Homo sapiens: one gene and its partners. The protein of the gene in region 1 purifies or fractionates together with the protein of each later gene. This does not show direct contact. Each region holds a gene or a part of one and is shown in the gene's direction. Other genes may lie near its edges. The genes, in order: FAM210A, COPB2 and IFT52.

Region 1 (3,653 bases):
GAAGGGGGGGGCCTCCAAAGCCAAAAGAGGAGATCCCCCTATTTTACTGTTTTTAATAATTCATCTTTTCTTAGCAAGTAAAATAGGTTTAATCCAAATTGTCTTATATGATAAACCCTTTTCTGTTAGATTTTAACCTAACATATGTTTCATTTTAAAAGTTGATAATCTTTGTAACTATTCTCCGGATTCAGACAACTTTTTTGAGACGGAGTTTCACTCTTGTTTCCCAGGCTGGAGTACAATGGCGCGATCTCGGCTCACCGCAACCTCTGCCTCCCGGGTTCAAGCAATTCTCCTGCTTTAGCCTCCCAAGTAGCTGGGATTACAGGCATGTGCCACCATGCCTGGCTAATTTTGTATTTTTTTAGTAGAGACGGGGTTTCTCCATGTTGGTCAGGCTGGTCTCAAACTTCTGACCTCAGGTGATCTGCCCGCCCTCGGCCTCTCAAAGTGCTGGGATTACAGATGAGACCCACTGCAGCCGGCCTGACAGCATCATCTTGATAGCTTCTATGCCTATGGGTCTTTATTTTGGAAGGGAAGACTCACTGTAAATTGTGGAGTTTAGCCATATTAATCTCATTTTCTAAACTGACAAATATTTATGAGGGTCTGTGAAACTTCTACCTAAGGAAGTTGAAAACACAGAAACTAGATGTTTTATTTTACTTCTGTTGTATAAGAATATCTAAGAATTACAGTTTTACAGCATTACTCAAAAGTAGCATTGTTTCATTCTGTCATCCTCATTAGCATCCTCTGAAATCTTGGTAGATTTCCTCTTTTATTATAATTTTGATGAGAGGGCTAACATTTAATTTTTGAGTTTTTCTACATTAAAGTGTATTAAATTTAAAAATTATCAAGTTTCTAATTATGGTGGGTATAATTTTAACCCGAGTAAGTCAAACTATCATGCTGATGTAAACCTTCCCTAATTTAATTGCTCCTTATCCCACTCCCATAGCATGACAGTTGATAGCACAGTGTGTGCTAGGTGTTAAGTGTTTGTTTTATTTGATTAGGAGCTCCCAGGAACTCAGAATCATGTCTTCTTTCTTGTTTTTTTTCACTGCACCTGGTATTATGTTCTGTAGGTGAATAAAATGCTCAGCACGTGTTTGTGGAGTTGGGATTGAAAATGAGGCTGTAGGCGTCATGGTAGGGAGATGAGTGCCAGTGGTGTTTCTTCCCCCTCACTATTCCTCTGTGAAGTAGGAGATATGGAGGGGATTCTCCTTTGTATTATCTGTAACCCCCAGTTTCTCAAATAGAGCAACAGACACAGATTTATTGCTTCAACAAGACAAAGTCCCCAAATGAAGTATGGCATGTATGGTCTGGTGGCAGTTGGCTACGGGATATATTCACTGACTGCCTCATAATCTCTTTGAAATACACCCAGAGTTTTAGTCATCCTCTGCTGTGTGCTAGGTACCATTCTAGGTACTGGGAATAAACGAATCAAAGAAGACAGTGCAAAATACCTGCCTCATAGGGCTGATAGTGTAGTGAGTGGTAGTGGGTTGGGGAGACAAGGTAAAGTTAGAAATGCATGCACACACAAAGTGTGTGTACGTAGATGATGGTAACTGCTAAGAAAGGAAACCAGGGATGGGGGTATGGATTTGTTTTTCAATGGGAGATGGCACACCTTGCTGAGAAGGTGAGAGAGTTGCTCCTCCAAGAGGGAGGAGCATTCCAAACAGAGAAAATCCGAAAGACAAAGTTCTGAGGCTGCAGGATCCTGGGAGTATTTGAGGGATGCAGGGAAGCTAGTGTGACCGGAATCAGTGAACAGGGCAGAGAATGGCGTGTCATCAGATCAGGACAGCCTTGTTGGCCCTTAAAAGGACTTTGCTTTTTACCCTGAGGACATGGAAAGCCACTGGACAATTTTAAGCATCCTGCCTCTGTTCCATCAAAATCACTTTGGCTGCTCTAGTAACAGACCATGGCGGGATCAGGGGAGAAGCCAAGGGACCTGGTGTGAGGTGAGGTGATTACAGTATTTTAGTTGAGAGGCAATAGTGGCCAGAACCCAGGTGGTAGCAGGAAGTAGTTGGATTCTCGATACGTTTTAAAGACGTGGTTGCTGGGGTTTTCTGATGGTTTGGATATAAATTATGGAAAAGAAAGAGGGGTTGAAGCTTTCTTGTAAGTTTTTGGCCCGGACAACTGGAAGAATAGAATTGCCATTTTCTGAGATGAGTAAGACTTTGAGAGAAGCAGGTTTGAAGTAGGACAGTCGAAGATCCGAAGGTCAGTTTTGAACATGCAGTCATGTGCCACCCAACAGCATTTCGGTTAACCATGGACTACAGACAGTGATGGTCCCATAGGTCCCATGTTTTTATGAATGTCATATTTTTACTGTAACTTTTCTACATTTAGATAGTTTAGGTATACAAATACTTACTGTGGTCTTATAATTGCCTACTGTGTTCGGCACAGTAGTGTGCTGTACAGGTTTGTAGCCTAGGAGCAATAGGCTATACCTTGTGGCCTGAGTGTGCAGAGGGCTACACCATCTAGGTTTGTGTAAGTACACTCTGTGAAGTTTCACACAACAATAAAATCACCTAATGACACATTTCTCAGACCGTATCCCCATTAAGTGACTCACCTGCATTAAGTTTGAGATCTTATTAGATATGCAAATGGAGGTGGTTGTATATACTGGAATTCAGGGGAAAAGTTCAGTCTGGAGATTAAAGTTAAGAATCATCCATGTATAGTTGGCACTAAAGACCAGAGAGTGAGATAGGTAGAGAAAATAAGAGGTCCAGGGATCGAATGTTGTCACACCACGTTCAGAGGTGGGTGAAAGGGGAGGAATTGGCAAAAATGAGAAGCCGCCATGAACTAGAAGGAAGCCCAGCAAGTTGAGGGCCTGGAGCCAAGTGAAGGGAAGGTGAAAGCTGTGTGGGATGGTTCCAGTGGTTCAGGGGCTGGTTCCAAATTGACAACTGGATTTAGTTTTGTAGAGGTCACTGTGACTTTGAAAGCAGTTTTGGTGAAGAGGTATGGGTGAAAGCTTGCTTAACGTGAGTTTAGGAGAGAAATTAGAGATAGAGCAGACAGCTCTTTCAAAGTTTTGTTATACAACACACCTATGCATTTTGTTTTGTTTCGTTTGAGACAGGATCTTGCTGTTTCCCAGGCTGGAGTGCAGTCGTGCAATCACAGCTCCCTGCAGCCTCGAACTCCTAGACTCGAGCAGTCCTCCTGCATCAGCCTCCCAAGTAGCTGGGACTACAGGCACATGCCACTTACTCCCGGCTAAGTATTTTTCTTTTCTTTTTCTTCTTTCTTTTTCTTTGTGTTTTAAGAGATGGCAGGGTCTCATTATGTTGCCCAGACTAGTCTTGAACTTCTGAGCTCAAGCAGCCCTCCCGACTGAGCCTCCCAAAGTGCTGGGATTATAGGCGTGAGCCATTGTACCTGCCAACACCTATGTTTTTTGTTTTGTTTTGTTTTGAGAGGTAGCTTCACTCTTGTCGCCCAGGCTGGAGCGCAATGGTACAATCTCGGTTCGCTGCAACCTCTGCCACCGGGTTCAAGCGATTCTCCTGCCTCAGCTTCTCAAATATCTGGGATTACAGGTGCCTGCCACCACGCCCGGCTAATTTTTGTACTTTTATTAGAGA
Region 2 (3,653 bases), on another chromosome or scaffold:
TGAGCTCTATTTTGCAAGATAAGAAAAGATGTAAAATAGTATGTAAACTAGTCTGGAAAGCCTAAGAGTACAGACATAGCAGTTATTTGCCAATGTCTGAAACTAACTAAAAATATGTTGGTTTTGAAAGACAGCCCAACCCCCTCATCTTTTGGTGTTGAATAGAGCAGGCAGTCAGAGAAGGACAGTGCTGCCTTGGTGGCACTCACCTTCAGCAGCAGATGCTCTTAGCACATCTGGTCTAAATGTTTGAGCTAAATGAGCTGTTCAGGGAGGCTCAAGTGGGAGAAATGTTAATACCATTTTTGTAATGATATTTTTATAGATCTTTGTATATTGAGGCTCCCAATTGTTTCAGACTGGCATTTACTGGTAAATTAATTTCAGATGTGCAAAATAAATTTTAGCTACGTTAAGATCATCTAAACATGCAGCATTTTGAGTTCTGAAAAGCTACAAGTGAGACATAATATTATTGTGAAATATTTAAAGACGTAGTTTTGTATGCTTTCAAAAAAGTGATATTAAATCACTTGTTAAAATAATTGCAGTCTAATTGCCTTAAAACTCCAGTGAGATGGTTTTACTTTCCCTGTGTAATTATAAGATAAAAGTATAATGGGTTGACGATAATTATTTGCACATCATTAAAATTGATTTGTGTTTAAATTCATTTTGTATACATTAATAATTTCCATTTCCTCACTGTACATTTTGCAATGCCATTCTTATTTTGATAGAGCCAACTTAACAAACACAGCTCTTTTTATAAACATTGTCTGCACAGTTAACAGAATAATGTTGGAAATGTAAATGCTTATTTCTAAAGATATTTTAACTTGGAAACTCTTTTCTTACAGTCAGAACAGAAGTGGAAACAACTTGCTGAACTTGCCATTAGTAAATGTCAGTTTGGCCTAGCCCAGGAGTGCCTGCATCATGCACAGGATTATGGGGGCCTGCTGCTTTTGGCCACTGCCTCTGGAAATGCTAATATGGTGAACAAGCTAGCAGAGGGTGCGGAGAGAGATGGCAAAAATAATGTGGCATTCATGAGCTACTTTTTACAGGGCAAGTGAGTATTAATTTAAAAGATTAATTAATTCTACACTGAGGATGGTTTTTGGAGAGGGAAGTGAAGAATGAACCCTGGAGAGAACTGATGAATGGCCAAATGGTGTTGAATAGACGGGGCAGTCAGAACAGGACAGTGCTGCCTTGGTGGCACTCACCTTCAGCAAGGGATGCCCTTAGCACATCTATCTAAATGTTTGAGCTAAATGAGCTGTTCAGGGAGGCTCAAGTGGGAGAAATGTTAAACACCTTCTTCAACAGCCCTGCCAGTTAATGGTGGAAGCATTTTATTTTATGATTGCAGGAGGCTATTGAGCTGCTCTAGTAGGTACCTGAAGGGCAGGTGATTTTACCCAAATTGGATAACTTTGATCCATTTATGGCAAGAACAAAAGGGGATAAGTATGCCACTTACTTGTAGATTTGAGCCCACTATAAAGCATAAAGATGTCTCATATTTTTAAGTCTAACCGAGTTAGCATAAACCAAATCATTTGGACATTAGTTGGCAGTATTATGAAATAAAACACAAAAGTATTCTTTCCTTTTTTTTTTTTTTTTTTTGAGATGGAATCTCACTCTGTTGCCCAGGCTGGAGTGCAGTGGCATGATCTCGGCTAATTGCAGCCTCTGTCTCCCTCGTTCAAGCCCTTCTCCTGCCTTAGCCTCCCAAGTAGCTGGGATTACAGGCATGCGCCACCACACCCGGCTTGTGTTTTTAATAGAGATGGGGTCTCACCATGTTGGCCAGGCTGGTCTCAAACTCCTGACCTCAAATGATCCGCCTGCCTCGTCCTCCCAAAGTGCTGGGATTATAGGTGTGAGCCACCACGCCCAGCCCGAAAGTATTCTTTAACCTTCTCCTACATACTGATTTTTTTTTTTTTTTACAATCCCATACTTCGCCATATAACTTTGAACGTGCACCCCATTGTATGTATGTGAATGTATTTATGAATTTATATACCTGTAAGAATAGACCCTATTCCTTATCCATAATTCAAAAATCCAAAAATATTCTGAAAACAGTTATAACTGTTTTGATGGCAAGACCTGAGCTGAACTGCTTTAGTATTTTTAGTTGCTTTTATACCAACTTGGTACATTTTTATTGCATTTAACATTCCTATGTAAGTTATTGCAGTATTAATGTTTGTGGCTTTTTCATGCTGAGGATGTAAGGTAATACATAGTATACATACTGTATCACCTTTCGAAAATCCAAAAAATCCTGAATTCTGAAACATATTGTCCACATCATAAAACTTGCACAGAAAAAAAATGAAATTAAAATAGAAGAAAAAATAAGACACCATGGTATTCTGCTGGGCACCACTGGCTTGTCTGGCCCTTCCCATGTTGGAGACACTGCCCTAGATATTTGTCTTGTGGAACTGAATTTCTGCTGGCATATATCCTTATGCCTTTAAAATTTGCTAATCTAACCTGCCTTAACTCCTCTTGAAAAGCCCCTTTAGGTTCTTAGGAATTATAATAATTAAGTTAAGTAGATTCAAAGTAGTCAGGAAAGCTGTCTTATCCCTCATACCCTTGCAGTGTGTTGATTAACAACCATTAAAAGACAAGTGACAGAAATGAGATATATGTGTGAAGATTGGGGAGATTTTTGGCTTTGTAACACTAAATTTACTTTGTGTTAAGTACCCATTATTATAGTGTTTATTCTTGGTAACAGTACCTCTCCTTTTTAATGTTTAGGGTTGATGCCTGCCTAGAGCTCTTAATTAGAACTGGACGGCTGCCAGAAGCTGCCTTCTTGGCCCGAACTTACTTACCCAGTCAGGTTTCAAGGTACAGACTTTTAATTTTAGGAAGAAATGTTTCCAATAAAAAGAGAGCACATTTACTTAGTCTCTCTTTGGTTCCATGATGTCTATAATAGGGTAGTGAAACTCTGGAGAGAGAATCTCTCAAAAGTCAATCAGAAAGCAGCAGAATCCCTTGCTGACCCAACAGAGTATGAAAACCTGTTCCCTGGATTAAAAGAAGCCTTTGTTGTTGAAGAATGGGTGAAGGAAACACATGCTGATCTGTGGCCAGCCAAACAATACCCACTTGTCACGGTGAGTGGCCAGGATGTCAAGCTTCATTTATTGTAACTACAGGGTGGAAGTACATTCAGGACTTCAGATTTTGAACTGCTGTCTTCTTTTAAAATTAAGAGCTGATATCTGGGATTTAGGCCAAGTTCATAGGTAAATTATGATTTCAGAATATCTCATTTCATCATTGCTTTATTCTCTGATAGCCAAATGAAGAGAGAAATGTCATGGAAGAGGGAAAAGACTTTCAGCCCTCAAGATCTACAGCTCAACAGGTCAGTAGAGCACTTCATGTGATAAATTTGGCTGAGATGGTTCACTTTTTTTTTTTTTCTTTTGAGACAGAGTTTCGCTCCATTGCCCTGGCTGGAGTGCAGTGGCGCGATCTAGGCTCACTGCAAGCTCTGTCTCCCGGGTTCACGCCATTCTCCTGCCTCAGCCTCCCGAGTAGCTGGGGTAATTACAGGCGCCCATCACCGGTCCGGCTAATTTTTTTGTATTTTTATTAGAGACAGG
Region 3 (3,653 bases), on another chromosome or scaffold:
AGCTAAATGTGAAACATGAACCACTCCAGCTCATCCAGCCTCAGTTTGAGACGCCGCTGCCAACCCTTCAGCCTGCGGTGAGTAGGTGTGCTTGGGAGATCCCACTGCAGAGCCCCACTGTTGCCCTTATCTTGTCAGCAGGCATTCGCTGTGGTCCCTTCCATGTGCCATTTGTGGCACTCCTTGTGGAGTCATAGTGCTCTGTCTCTAAACATGCATGGACACCAAATTTGTTAATGTTCTATAGAGACTTCCATGTGGTATGCTTCCAAATTGAGGAATCAAGGATGTGGAGCCTTCTGGCTATTAAACATTTCCTATTCTCATCTTGTGGGGTTGGAGGGCATATATGAGATTTCTTGGATAAAAAGGAAGAAAACTTTGTACTGCCATTCCAGGTGTCAGGGCCTGATTCATAACATAATTCTCACAGCCCAGGGGATAGTTATGGTCATGTGTGTAAATAGGTTATTTTTCAACATTTCAGTCCAACATTCAACTTGCCTTTAAAATTACCTTGTCTCACCACATTCTGAAATGTTATGAGCCAGTTAGCTTGATCTTGCTTGGTAGCTTGAAATTGGCCATGGTGAGAGGATTTACATTACAGAAAATGGTAAATGCTACAAAACAGGCCTTCAGTTTTGTTTTGTTTTGAAAGTAGTTAAACATTTACCCGCATACCATTGGTTCATACCTACAAAATGTGACTCCAGGTTCAATACTTTCTACACTAATCTGCATCTGGTTCTCCAAATAACTTCCATCCCTAAAAACTTATGATTAAATGAGAAACAAGTTGTACAATCAAATGTTCAACACAAACCTAAGCCCCAAGCTTTGTGTCATCGTTCTGAGTTAATTAGCATTGGTATGTCAGCTTGGTCAGTTTAGTGGTAATTAGAGCTGGTTCTACTTGGTTGTTTACAGTGGGCTAATAATCTTTCTTGGTATGGGTCTAATGGGTGAGGGTAGACGAGGTGATGGGAGTTTGGGTATTTCATCCTCAGGGAAGAGCCGAGTTACTGTTCTGTAGGGGTTTCCATGTGGTGTGGTTCCCAACTGAGGAATTAAGGATGTGAACTTCCTTATTCTCCTTGTGTCTTATCACTGTTAGTTATGATTTTGGACAAGCTCTTTCTTGAGAGACTTTATTTCCTTTACCTTATCCTCCCTCATTTCTAAATAATGACTTTATTTCCTTTTAGGTTTTTCCTCCCAGTTTCCGGGAGTTACCACCTCCTCCTCTGGAGCTATTTGATTTAGATGAAACGTTCTCCTCTGAGAAGGCACGGCTGGCTCAGATTACCAATAAGTGTAAGTTTGGCGAACTTTTTTTTTTTGAGACAGAGTTTCACTCTTGTTGCCCAGGCTGGAGTGCAATGGTGCGATCTCGGCTCACTGCAACCTCTGTCTCCCAGGTTCAAGCGATTCTCCTGTCTCAGCCTCCCGAGTAGCTGGGATTACAGGCATGCGCCACCACGCCCAGCTAATTTTTGTATTTTTAGTAGAGACGGGGTTTCATCATATTGGTCAGGCTGGTCTCAAACTCCTGACCTCAGGCGATCAGCCCGCCTCGGCCTCCCAGAGTGCTGGGATTACAGGCGTGAGCCACCATGCCTGGCCTAAGTTTGGCCAACTTTTAAACTTTGTTTTCTCTTATGAGTTTTATTTAATCATGAATTTCTGAGAATTGCTATGAGAGACTGCTTAGAGTTTGTTTAGGGAAAACAAAATATGAATAGGAGTATAAACTTACCATTCTTATTTATGTCATGTAAATAATGTTGGTTGTTCTTCTCGAGGCTATTTAGTTCAGTGAATTAGAACATAGTGCCAAGCAGAAAGCCAAAGGTCTCAGCTTTGATCCCTGTGAGTCCTTAGTTCTGACCTATTGAGAGACCATAGAATTAATCTTGACCCTGGCTGCCACTTAGCAAATCTCAGTCAGTGGTCATAGGAGCAGCTAAATAAGGAAATTGAGTAAGGCCCAAAGAATGATAGAGACTTCAAATTGGACAGGATCTGAGAGAGAGCCAAGTGTGCCCACCTTGACATGTGGATGAAGAAATGAGGCCCCAGGCCACACAGCTCCACGGTGAGTGGTCCTCCTGACTTTTGGTCTGGGGCTGCTCCTGACATGAATTGCCTCCAACACAGCAAATGGGTCTGCACATATATGCTCAGAGGCATAAAATTAACCATCCACTTTGAGGCAGTGACCCCACTCCTGGAACTCTAATCTAAGGAGATTATATTTTTTTTTTTTTTGAGACAAAGTTTCACTCTTGTCGCCCAGCCTTGGGTGCAATAGTGCTATCTCAGCTCGAGGTAACCTCCGCCTCCTGAGTTCAAGCGATTCTCCTGCCTCAGCCTCCCAAGTAGCTGGGATTACAGTTGCCCACCGCCACGCATGGCTAATTTTTGTGTTTTTAGTAGAGATGGGGTTTTACCATGTTGGCCAAGCTGGTCTAAAACTCCAGACCTCAGGTGATCCACCCGCCTCAGCCTCCCAAAGTGCTGGGATTACAGGCATGAGCCACCACGTCCGGCCAACTTCTACACTATTTATTTTTAAAATACAATAAACTCGGGAGGCTGAGGTAGGAGGATCGCTTGAACTTAGGAATTTAAGACCAGTCTGGGCAACATAGCAAGACCCTGTCTCTAAAAATATATTTTAAAAAAATAACAATTTTTAAAAATAGAAAAAAACTATAAATTTGGGAATAGCTTTAATGTCCACTAGCAGAGTAATGGTCTTAAAATGCGTCACATTCATTTGGTAGGAGAATATGTAGTCATTATAAAAGAGGTTCACAAAGGCTAGGGAATGACACATATGACACAGACAGAATTTAAGAGAGAATCCTGAATGAAGAAAGCAAGATATAAAACTGCATGTACAAGAGGATACCAGCTATGTCAGTAACATCTGTATGTGCCCAAAGCCCAGAAAGAAGTAAGCAAAATGGAAACAGTTCAGTGTAAACGAAGACCTTTACTGCATCTCTCTTCTGTGGCAGGCATTGCTGTGGGTCCTGGGCAGTCAAAAATGAGCAGGACATAGTGATGAGTCCAGGAGGAATCACAGAACGGTGAAGAAGCAGCTTTGACTTGGCATTTCTGTTTCTAGCAACTGTCCTATGGAAATCCTTGTAGAAATGCAAGACAAAAAAGATATAGATATTAATTATAGCATTCAAAAAATTGGAAACAGTCTAATGGTCCATCCATCATTAGGGGGATTGGTTAAAAAGAGTATGAAATAAGCCTGGGTCACATAGACCCCATCTCTACAAAAAAAAAAAAAAAAATTGCCTGAGCACGGTGGATCATGCCTATAATCTGAACACTTCAAAAAGCCAAGGCAGGAGGATCAGTTGAGGCTGGGATTTCAAGACCAGCTTGGACAACATAATGAGACCTTGTCTCAAAAAAACAAAAAAAAAGGCTGGGTGCAGTGGCTCACGCCTGTAATCCCGGCACATTGGGAGGCCAAGGTGGGCAGATCACCTGAGGTTGGGAGTTCAAGACCAGCCTGACCAACATGGAGAAACCCCTTCTCTACTAAAAATACAAAATTAGCTGGGTGTGGTGGCGCATGCCTGTAATCCCAGCTACTGGGGAGGCTGAGGCAGGAGAATCGCTTG

What was found.
Region 2: the proteins of FAM210A (region 1) and COPB2 purify together in Homo sapiens (affinity purification with mass spectrometry, with the first as the bait; one study listed by BioGRID). This does not show direct contact.
Region 3: the proteins of FAM210A (region 1) and IFT52 purify together in Homo sapiens (affinity purification with mass spectrometry; one large-scale study listed by BioGRID and IntAct). This does not show direct contact.

Annotation. Positions count from the first base shown.
Region 1 is NC_000018.10:13,667,549-13,671,201, reverse strand, and holds part of FAM210A (protein FAM210A), read left to right. Parts: intron 1-3,653. UniProt on the Homo sapiens protein: May play a role in the structure and strength of both muscle and bone.
Region 2 is NC_000003.12:139,358,503-139,362,155, reverse strand, and holds part of COPB2 (coatomer subunit beta'), read left to right. Parts: intron 1-860; coding exon 861-1,075; intron 1,076-2,793; coding exon 2,794-2,886; intron 2,887-2,977; coding exon 2,978-3,158; intron 3,159-3,343; coding exon 3,344-3,412; intron 3,413-3,653. UniProt on the Homo sapiens protein: The coatomer is a cytosolic protein complex that binds to dilysine motifs and reversibly associates with Golgi non-clathrin-coated vesicles, which further mediate biosynthetic protein transport from the ER, via the Golgi up to the trans Golgi network.
Region 3 is NC_000020.11:43,635,937-43,639,589, forward strand, and holds part of IFT52 (intraflagellar transport protein 52 homolog), read left to right. Parts: coding exon 1-77; intron 78-1,208; coding exon 1,209-1,317; intron 1,318-3,653. UniProt on the Homo sapiens protein: Involved in ciliogenesis as part of a complex involved in intraflagellar transport (IFT), the bi-directional movement of particles required for the assembly, maintenance and functioning of primary cilia. Required for the anterograde transport of IFT88.